2 separate regions of the Homo sapiens genome follow, and region 2 is linked to region 1. Evidence: fine-mapped expression QTL. A gene starts in region 1. The other region holds a variant in brackets. All regions are shown on one strand. Distances are between the middles of the regions. Region 1 holds the start of C17orf58 (chromosome 17 open reading frame 58). Region 2 has its middle 28 kb from the start of BPTF.

The links.
Region 2: its variant is fine-mapped to the expression of C17orf58 in whole blood (TOPMed, PIP above 0.99). The same link has a PIP of 0.9 or more in blood mononuclear cells.

What each region holds. Positions count from the first base shown.
Region 1 is chr17:67,993,653-67,998,971 of GRCh38, forward strand. C17orf58 (chromosome 17 open reading frame 58) reads right to left here and starts at 2,817. Exons shown (of 4, transcript NM_001382359.1): 1 at 2,471-2,817; 2 at 1-332. The coding sequence starts at 2,546. RefSeq lists silencers at 33-292, 2,047-2,136.
Region 2 is chr17:67,794,913-67,800,283 of GRCh38, forward strand. No RefSeq gene overlaps it. Among named protein-coding and RNA genes, the nearest start is that of BPTF, 28 kb to the right of the region's middle. The variant C/T (reference allele first, on the strand shown) is at 3,047.

The DNA.
Region 1 (5,319 bases):
GGCGGGGAAGCGCAGGGCCCGTGAGCGCGCGCGTCGCGGGGCGTCCTCCGACGCGGGCTCGCGGCGCGGCGACGCGCGGTTCTCGGCTTGCGCCAGGCGCGGGCCCGGCGGGCCAGCGGGCGCGCGTGCGGCCTCCCGGAAGCTGGCCTGGTTGTCGGCCGGCGGTGGGGGCTTCCGGCGGCGCGGGTCAGGCCAGGCGCGGGCGGCGGGAGCGACCTCGGCCGCGCGCGGCCGCTGCGGGGCCTCAAGGAGTGGCTGCGCGCGGGGCCCCGGTGTCTCCTCCGCGCTCGGGCAGCCGCGGGAGTCCGGCTTTCTGCTGTGCGGCGGCGAGGCTGTGGGGAGAGAAGAGGAGAGGCGGGAAGGCGGTGGGGGAGGAGAAGCAGTGAGGGGAGGCCGTCGGGGAAAGCCGAGGAAGCCGAGAAGGAAGAAGAGGGAAGGGGAGGCTGAGACGGGAGGCCGAGAGGGGAAGGGAAGCCAGGAGGGGAGGAGGCCGCTAGTGGGGCAGGGGCGCTGCAGAAGAAGGGCTCTGGGAGGGGGAGAGGAGATAGAGGACAAGGGAGGCTTCGCAGGCACCTGCAAGAGGAGAGATGGGAGGGAGGCCCGGAGGCCTGGAAGTGAAGCAGGGAGAACCCGGACGCAGCGTCGCGGCCAAGCGGGGCACGCGCTTCCCAGGCCCCAAAGGAAGAAGGATACGAGGGTCTTGACCTCTAAGATTATAGCTTTTAAAATTACAACCCCCTATTTACTCTAAGACTAAACATGTCTTACAACACTGGTTAGATAACAAACTTTTTTGCCCTTCCTTTAATATATACGTATATGTGTGTATGTGTGCGTGTGCGTGTGTGTGTGTGTGTGTGTGTGTATATATATATATATATATAAAACATATATAAACATCCGCCTCTTTGCTATTTACAGTTTGTTGAGAAAGTACCAAGAGCAAACCCCAGGGGGAAAGGTCTCATATTACAGGTTCTCCTAATTCTTTAAGCGCCCCTGACAACAGAACTATTTGGTTTTCCCATCCATGTTTACACTGTCATCCCGGTCTCTGCAGAATCGAGCATTTGTAAGTGGATTTTTATCTGGCTTCTTGGACACCACTTACTGGTAAACCACAGCTAAGGAAGGTTTTAAAAGCTTGGCTGGGAGGCAGAGAGGCCCCTGGTTAAGTATAAAAGCACACGTCGCTTACATTTTTTTCCCCATTAGATGATGGAGGAAAGACTCCTAAATGGTATGGCATGAAAACAAATTTTTAAAATTATTAATGATTTTCCCTAGTTCTGCAGACAGGTTGGTGAGTAAACCTCAGCCAGCTTGGGAGCTGGGCACCTTTCCATACCAGTTACACAATTTCACCTCCTTGCTTGCCTGGGTCCCAGTGCCCTCCAAACAGGCAAGAACTAGCCTTTATTTTTCTCTCCCCTTGCATTAAAGAGATGGATCTGCCCATTTGCAGCTCTGGCAACACTTCATTTAAAGTTGATCAGTCTTGCCAAATCGATAATCTGCTTTAAAATCAGCTTTCACCCAGCAATAATAGCTGGTTAGAGTTCATGTTTTTGCAAAGAGGTTGATTCTGACTCATTATGTTGTTAAACGGTTGTGCCATGCACAGCTGAATAAAGTTCTGGTGGATATCCAATTCCTGACTGTCAACTGTTGACCTCACAACTGCTTCCCCATTGATATAACCATCTGTTGTCATGGGAAAGATTGTCTGATATTTGGGTTAAATGCCACTGAAGTCATTCAATTTCCATGTGGAAAAATAACCCAGAGTAAATTGCCCTGTGAGGTACGGAAACTGTTTTTCCCAGAGATAGCGAAGCCGACAGAACATCCAAATAAAAGCAAAACAAAAACACGATCCCCCAGAGAACCCCTCATTTCTTCACGGGCTGAGTAACTTAATTTCATTTCGTGCATGAAGTATAAGAGTGTGTGCGTGTTAGTTAAACCCCGGCTCAGGTGTCCCAAGGTTGTGCGCTGGGGCTGCGGGGAGAGCAAAGTGCCCGGGGCTGCCGGATTTCGGCCCCGCTTCCCCCCAGCCCTCCACAGCGCCCCCCGCAGCCCCTGCTCACCCAGTCGAGGGGGGCGGACCCCGCGGCGTCCTGCGAGCCCGGCCCGGGCACGGCTCCCGAAAGGCGCGCCACGACCCCTTTTGACACTTTCCCTCCTCCGTGATGGAGCAACTACTTAACATGCAAAGTTTTCCCCAGCCTGCCCGGCTTGCTCGGGATCATTTCAGTAGCTAAATTGGCTTCTTTCCGAAAAGGCTGCCAAGAGACACGAAACCTTGGGGACACACTTTGCTCCTTTATAAGACGAACGCAGACCCGGGGTGTCCTCTCTTGCGAGCTCTGACCCCCCTCCTCGTCCCACGTTTCACTGAGCCTCCTTCCCAGCTCCCCCCCACAGATCCCCGCTCCGCTCCCAGGGCCCCGCACTACACCAATCTTACTTTTTCTCTCCGCCACCGGTGCTTCGGGGGATGATCCGACGATCAAACAGAGGAGCCAGAAAGCTCTAGCTGTCATTTTTGCAGACAGGGTTCCCAGGCTCTAAAAGTGAGCCTGGTCTTTTGCTTGCTTTCTCTCCCCCAACCCCTTCTCCACACCCCCACCCCCGTTCATGCTAATGAGGGGCAGCCTTTGGGGAAACGGGAATCACTCGCTGAGCAGACCATTGGAACAAAACCGAGCCGCAGGGATTTCTCCCTCTTCCTTCCTAAGGAGGACGAGCACATGGCCTTGCAAAGTTGTCCCCGGGAATGTCTGTCCTGTGATCTGCGGGCGAGGAGAGCATCACAGCCTAAACTTTAAACCTGTGTGCGTTTGCGCGCTGGGGTGGGGGCAGCAAAGGGTGGGGTGACAAGTGCAGAGAATAAGCGTGTTTCGGGACTGAGGGACTGGGTGGGGGAGAACGAGTGACGGGAGCTTTTTTCTAGATTAGGTCAACAACAAATAGGAAAATAGTGCTTAAGACAGCGTGGGTTTGTGGAAGGGAGATTCCAGATGACAGAGAATGTATCCTGGAATGTGTGTGTTAGGCAATTTCTAGAGAAACCAAGTCACTGCTTCCTTAGTAAAACTGTTTCATTATATATCACAGCTCATTGTAACCTCTGCCTCCCGGACTAAAGCGATTCTCGTGCCTCAGCCTCTCAAGTAGCTGGGATTACAGGCATATGCCACCATGCGAGGCTAATTTTTGTATTTTTAGCAGAGACGGGATTTCACCGTGTTGGCCAGGCTGGTCTCAAACTCCTGACCTCAAGTGATCCACCCACCTTGGCCTCCCAAAGTGCTGGGATTACAGCATGAGCCACCACGCCGGGCCCAGAGGTCTAATTATTAATCAGAATGTTGCCTGTTGAGGCCAGGCAGGGTGGTTCATGCCTGTAATCCCAGTACTTTGGGAGCCCGAGACAGGAGGATCTCTTGAGCTCAGGAGTTCAAGACCAGCCTGAGCAACATGGAGAGAACCTGTCTCTACAAAAAATACAAAAATTAGCCAGGCATGGTGGCTCGCATCTGTGGTCCCAGCCACTTGGGAGGCTGAGGTGGGAGGATCACTTGAGCCTAGGAGGTGGAGGTTGCAGTGAGCCGAGATTGTGCCACTGCACTCCAGCCTGGGTGACAGAGAGAGGCCCTGTCTCAAAAAAAAAAAAAAAAAAAAAAGAAGAAGAAGAAGAAGAAGAAAGAAAAGAAAGAGGAGGAGCCAGGCACAGTGGCTCACGCCTGTAATCCCAGCATTTTGGGAGGCCAAGGCAGGCGGATCACGAGGTCAGGAGTTCAAGACCAGCCTGGCCAAATTAGTGCAACCCTGTCTCTACTAAAATTACAAAAAAGTTAGCAGGGTGTGGTGGCACACACCTGTAGTCCCAGCTACTCAGGAGGCTGAGGCAGGAGAATCGCTTGAACCTGGGAGGCAAAGGTTGCAGTGAGCTGAGACTATGCCATTGCACTCCAGCCTGGGTGATAGAGTGAGACTTTTGTCTCAAAAAGAAAAAAAAAAAGAGGAGGAGGAGGAGAACGAAGAAGAAGAAGAAGGAGAGCAGGGCCAGGTGTGGTGGCTCACGCCTGTAATCCCAGCACTTTGGGAGGACAAGGTGGGTCGATCACGAGGCCAGGAGATCCAGACCATCCTGGCTGACACAGTGAAACCCCGTCTCTACTGAAAATACAAAAAATTAGCCGGGCGTGGTGGCGGGCGCCTGTAGTCCCAGCTACTCAGGAGGCTGAGGCAGGAGACTGGCGTGAACCTGGGAGGCGGAGCTTGCAGTGTGGCGCCACTGCCCTGCCCTCCAGCCTGGGTGACAGAGTGAGACTCTGTCTCAAAAAAAAAAAAAAAAAAAAAAAAGAAGGAGAGGAGGAAGAGGAGGAGGAGGAGGAAAGAAGTTTGCCTGTTGAGCATTAAATCAAAGAAAATAAATTTGCTGGCTGGGTGCGGTGGCTCAACCTGTAATCCCAACACTCTGGGAGGCCAAGGTGGGCAGATCACGAGGTCAGGAGTTCGAGACCAGCCTGGCCAACATAGTAAAACCCCATATCTACTAAAAATACAAAAATTAGCGAGTCATGGTGGCGGGCACCTGTAATCCCAGCTACTTGGGAGGCTGAGGGAGGAGAATCGCTTGAACCCAGGAGGCAGAAGTTGCAGTGAGCCAAGACTGCGCCACTACACTCCAGCCTGGGCAACAGCACAGGACTCTGTCTCAAAAAAAAAAAAAAAAAAAGAAAAAGAAAAAGAAAAAAAAGAAAAGAAATTTGCCTGTTGAGCATTAAATCAAATTGCAGCTAAGGAGATGAGCTAATCTTCCCTCATTCAGGTGTTAGAGGAGTGAATTATATTCTCCATCCAAAAGAGTAAACCTCTACAGCCCCTGCAAAGCTTGGGTATACCAGAGTCAGGGTCTCCAGACCCTAGACAAGACCAGATAAACACTAGTAAATTCATGCCCTTGGGGCCCTGTTTATAGATGTCCTCAGATCCCCTTCTTTCACGTGCTCTTTCTTTAAGTCAAGTGGAATAAAATTCACTAGGCTTAAGATTTCTCAGTTACAACCACATCTCTAACATACCTTCTTACCATTACATTCAAATCACCCAGAACCTATTGGGGGTGTTCCCGAAACTCTTCTGTTGCAGGAATGTTGTGAATGCCCTGAAACCCACACCCTGAAATGTAGAGGCAGGGAGCAGGCTGGATGGCTCCCAGGGGCTCCCAGAGGCTCCTGGGGTGGCACCAGCTGGAAGAACCTGCCAGAGTCCAGTCCTGGGTCTTGGGCAGTGTCTGGCTTGAGCCTT
Region 2 (5,371 bases), 200 kb before region 1:
TGTGTAAAAAAATAAAATGAATAAGAATTGATCCTGGATCCAGGAGCTCAAAGCATGTGCCCAAGAAACTGAGGTTCTTGGCTCTCCCTGCCTCTGACTTTGTTTCCAGCAGTCATCCTCCCTCTCTTTGCTGGGGAAGACGCCCTGCCAGCTCCATGGCAACAGGAGCTGCATAGCTCTAGTCCTCAGAAGTCTCCCCGAGTCCACAGCCATCCAACAATCCCCTCAAAAGACTCTGAATAGAGGCCAGGTGTGGTGGCGCATGCCTGTAATCCCAGCACTTTGGGAGGCCAAGCCGGGTGAATCACTTGAGGTCAGGAGTTCAAGATCAGCCTGACTAACATGGTGAAACCCCATCTCTACTAAAACTACAAAAATCATCCAGGCTTGGTGATGAGCACCTGTAATCCCAGCAACTCAGGAGGCTGAGGTAGGAGAATTGCTTGAACCTGGGAGGTGGAGGTTGCAGTGAGCCAAGATTGTGCTACTGCAATCCAGCCTGGGCGACATGAGACTCTGTCTCAAAAAAAAAAAAAAAAAAAAAAAAAAAAAGACTCTGATAGAGCTGCCTAGGTCCTATGCCCATTCCTGAGCAACCTCATGTTCAAGGATGAAGTACTCTAACTGGCAAAGACAATGCCATGTGTAGACCAGAGGGTTTCATTTCTTCCTGGCTCGGGAGAAACTACATTCCCCAGGCACTCTCACATCTGGTGGAAGCATGTGACTAGTTCTGAACAATGAATGTGGCACAAGAGAGGCTTACGGCTTCTGAGCTGGATCCTAAAATGCACCCCGTTTCCCCCATCTTCCATGCTCTCTCTTTGCTTGTTCATGGTGGATGCATTCTCAGGTCTAATCAAGGGCTCCTAGGAAGCCCTAAAGAACACTGGAAGCGATAAAAGGAAGGAGCTTGGATTTCTGCTTAAAGGAAAGTCTTCTCATGTCCTCCCCCAACAACCTCCCAAAAAAACCCTCATTGAGCTGTGATATAACCAAGAAATAAACTTATTATTCTATTGAGCCACTGAGATTTGTAGTTAGTGGTTATCAATCTACTGTGAATAGATTAGTTCACATGCTCACTCCTGAGATAGGAGAGATGGGACTTTTGCTTTAAAACAAGGCATACTGGACAGGTGCGGTGGTTCATGCCTGTAATCCCAGCACTTTGGGAGGCCAAGGCTGGTGGATCACTTGAGGCTAGGAGTTCGAGACTAGCCTGGCCAACGTGATGAAACCCCATCTCTGCTACAAATACAAAAAATTAGCTGAGCATGTTGGCATGCACCTGTAGTCCCAGCTACTCGGGAGGCCGAGGCAGGAGAATCCCTTGAGGCCAGGAGGTAGAGGCTGCAGAGAGCTGAGATTGTGCCACTGCACTCCAGCCTGGGCAACACAGCAAAACTCCGTCTCAAAAATAAAACAAAAAGGCTGGGCGCAGTGGCTCATGCCTGTAATCCCAGCACTTTGGGAGGCCGAGGCGGGCGGATCATGAGGTCAGGAGATCGAGACCATCCTGGCTAACAAAGTGAAACCCCATCTCTACTAAAAATACAAAAAAATTAGCTGGGCATGGCAGTGTGCGCCTGTAGTCCCAGCTGCTGGGGAGGCTGAGGCAGGAGAATGGGGTGAACCTGGGAGGCGGCGCTTGCAGTGAGCCGAGATCGTGCCACTGCACTCCAGCCTGGGTGACAGAGCAAGACTCTGTCTCAAAAAAAAACCAAAATAAATAAAAAATAAAAAATAAGGCACACCAGAGCCATAAAGTGTAGGAGGGGCTGTTCCCAATGGAAAGACATGTGGGTCAGACAATAAAAGAGCAGATAAACAACCCACTTATCTTGAGTTTAGGAATCAGTCCAAAGGAAATAATCCAAAAGGAAACTAAATTATTTTAAATAAAGATGTTCATCGCAGAGCTATTTATAATAGCAACAGATTGGAAATGTCCCAAAAGCTCAAAACGTGGATGTGATAAAGCAAAGCACAGTTGATCAGTATAATGCACCCATGGATACATGGAACTGTGTATCAGAAACCTTGCTGAGTGACAGATGCTAAGCACAAAAGGATTTAGTCCTCTCCTTACCCCTTACAAAGGCGCTGGGGGTTGGGCCTCCTCTGGCAGCTGAATTGAGGAGTGGAATCCTCAGAACTGGGGGCCTGAATCAGGGAGTTCTCATTAGATCTGGAGGAGGAAACTGAGCCAGAAGTTGTTCAGCAAACTGGGCTTCACATTCATAAGAGACCCAGGAAGAGACATGGGATCAGGGTTTGGAACCAGGGAGAGAAGAGAAAACTTTGATCAGGTGAGGATCAAATTGGGAGGCAGGGAGGGTGCTTGGGCTGTCAGATGATGCTCAGGGCTGGCTTTTGAGGGTGGCTGGGCTGGCTAAGCAAAGGACCAGAACTGGGGCAGGAACCAAACCCTTCTAAGTCCTCCTCTGGGCAGGGCAGGGCAGGGCATCCCTTCACTCACCTGGTGAAATGCCTTTTTGTTTGTTTGTATGCTTTTTGAGATGGTGTCTCGGTCTGTCATCCAGAGAGAGTGCAATGGTGAGATCTGGGCTCACTGCAACCTCTACCATCTGGGTTCAAGTGATTCTCCTGCCTCAGCCTCCAGAGTAGCTGGGATCACAGGCGCATGCCACCACACTCAGCTAATTTTTTTTTTTTTTTGAGACGGAGTTTTGCTCTTGTTGCCCAGGCTGGAGTGCAATGGCGCGATCTGCTCACTGCAACCTCCGCCTCCCGGGTTCAAGCAATTCTCCTGCCTCAGCCTTCCTGAATAGCTGGGATTAGAGGCATGTGCCACCGCACCAGAATAATTTTGTATTTTTAGTAGAGACGGGGTTTCTCCATGTTGGTCAGGCTGGTCTCGAACTCCCAGCCTCAGATGATCTGCCCGCCTTGGCCTCCCAAAGTGCTGAGATTACAGGAGTGAGCCACTGCGCCCAGCCAATTTTTGTATTTTTAATAGAGACAGGGTTTCACCATGTTTGCCAGGCTAGTCTCGAACTCCTGACCTGAGGTGAGCCATCTG[C/T]CTCACCCTCTCAAAGTGCTGGGATTACAGGCGTGTGCCACTGTGCCTGGCCTGAAATATCTGTTTTGAGACAGGATCTCACTTTGTCACCCAGGCTGGAGTGCAGTGATGCGATCTCGGCTCACTGCAACCTCCACCTCCCGGGTTCACATGATTCTCTTGCCTCAGCCTCCCGAGTAGCTGGGATTACAGGTGCATGCCATCTCACTAACTTTTTATTTTTTATTTTTGTAGAGACGGGGTTTCACCATGTTGGCCAGGCTGGTCTTGAACTCCTGATCTCAAGTGATCTGCCTGCTTCAGCCTCCCAAAGTGCTGGGATTACAGGTATGAGCCACCGCACCTGGCCTAAAAGCTTCTCAGATGATTCTGATCTGCATCCCTTAGGTGCAAGCACTTAAGGTCCTAGCCGTTTGCTTATACGGTGGTTGATGATTTAGAAGGTACAAGGAATGGAGGCCATGGCTGATGTGTCAGTGTGTTTTAGACACGGGAATGTAGTGAACTCTATGCAAATTTTGCAGAATAAAGGCGGGTGGTGTCCTGTGTTTCCCAGTGGTCAGGAAGCAGAGCGTTCTCTAGAACTTAATTGACGCATTTCACCAGGCACCAGGTGGAAAGGTCCAGTACGGGGGATGAAACGTGACATCTTAGGATACTCCCTCCTGTACCATGATGGTGTGATGGTCACAGGCATGGAGAGGGCCCAGAGAGGGTATAGTAGCCTTTAGGACCATTGCTGTCTATCCTTATCCAGTGTACCTATAACTCAAGAACTGATGAATTTGGGAGACAATCTCTAGACCACAGGGCCACCAAAAGTTCCATGGGCCCATGTTTAGGATTTTGAAGGACGCCCAGTGGCATACTGAGTAGTGTCCTCCCCAGTCCCAGCACTGATGCGCAGTTTCCTACTGCCAGGACATTGATGGCTATACTGGTGGAGGAGGAACCTGTGCATTTTTCTTATTTTTTTATTTTTTAGATGGAGTCTCACTCTGTTGCCAGGCTGGAGTGCAGTGGCGCGATCTTGGCTCACTGCAACCTCTGCCTCCCAGGTTCAAGCAATTCTCTTGCCTCAGCCTCCTGAGTAGCTGGGTCTACAGGTGCATGCCACCATGCCCAGCTAATTTTTGTATTTTTAGTAGGGACAGGGTTTCACCATGTTGGTCAGGCTGGTCTCGATCTCTTGACCTCGTGATCTGCCTGCCTTGGCCTCCCAAAGTGCTGGGATTACAGGTGTGAGCCACCGCACCCAGCCGATCCTGTGCATTTTTTTAGCTTTGAGCAGGCTTGGATCTCAGCCAACTGGATGATGGCCTTGCAGAACTGTTTAGACTCACAGCAACAGAGCCGGCATGCCTGCAGAGTTCCCAGGCCACGGTGCTTTGGATGCGGGACTTCTCTGCCATCCCCTGCCATTGTGGTCTTGCTGGCAGGATATCTACCAAACAGTTTAGGCTGCTCAGCTCACAAATACGGGAAGCAAACTCTTTGAAGACTGCGAGGAGGCATGAGCTGAACCAAGTGTGCTCCAAGCACTCCTAGCTGTCAGGTAATGGGGAATGCCCCCCTTGAAGGCCACTTAGATCACTAGCAATGCTGTCTTCTTCACCATGAGGTCACTGACGTTAATCATCCAGTTTTCTTGCTGTGGAGTCACAGGAGAGTAAGTCATTTAGGCTGAAGACTTTTTTGTGTGTCCTTCTCCTGCCAGCTTGAGAAAGCTAGGGACTTCTTTTTTGTTTTTTGAGGCGGACTCTCGCTCTGTCGCCCAGGCTGGAGTGCAGTGGCGTGATCTCAGCTCACTGCAAGCTCTGCCTCCCGGGTTCACGCCATTCTCCTGCCTCAGCCTCCCAAGTAGCTGGGACTACAGGCGCTCGCCACCACGCCCGGCTAATTTTTGTACTTTTAATAGAGACAGGGTTTCACCATGTTAGCCAGGATGGTCTCAATCTCCTGACCTCGTGATCCGCCCGCCTCTGCCTCCCAAAGTGCTGGGATTACAGGCGTGAGCCACTGCTCCCCGGCCAGGCTGGGGACTTCTTGATACAAGCTGGATGAGCTTGCCTTGAGGATATGAGGCTAGGCTGACTTTAGGGAAGTCAGTTTTTGGAAAGAGTTCTCAATCTCTGAAACAAAGCACACAGTGAAGCTGGTAGCAAAGAAATCCATTTTTGTTTGTTTTTTTTTTAGAGACATCGTCTCATTCTGTCACCCGGGCTGGAATACAGTGCTTGATCATAGCTCAGTATAACCCTGAAGTCCTGGGCTCAAGTGATCCTCCTCCTTCAGCCTCCCCAGTAGCTGGGACCACAGGTGTGC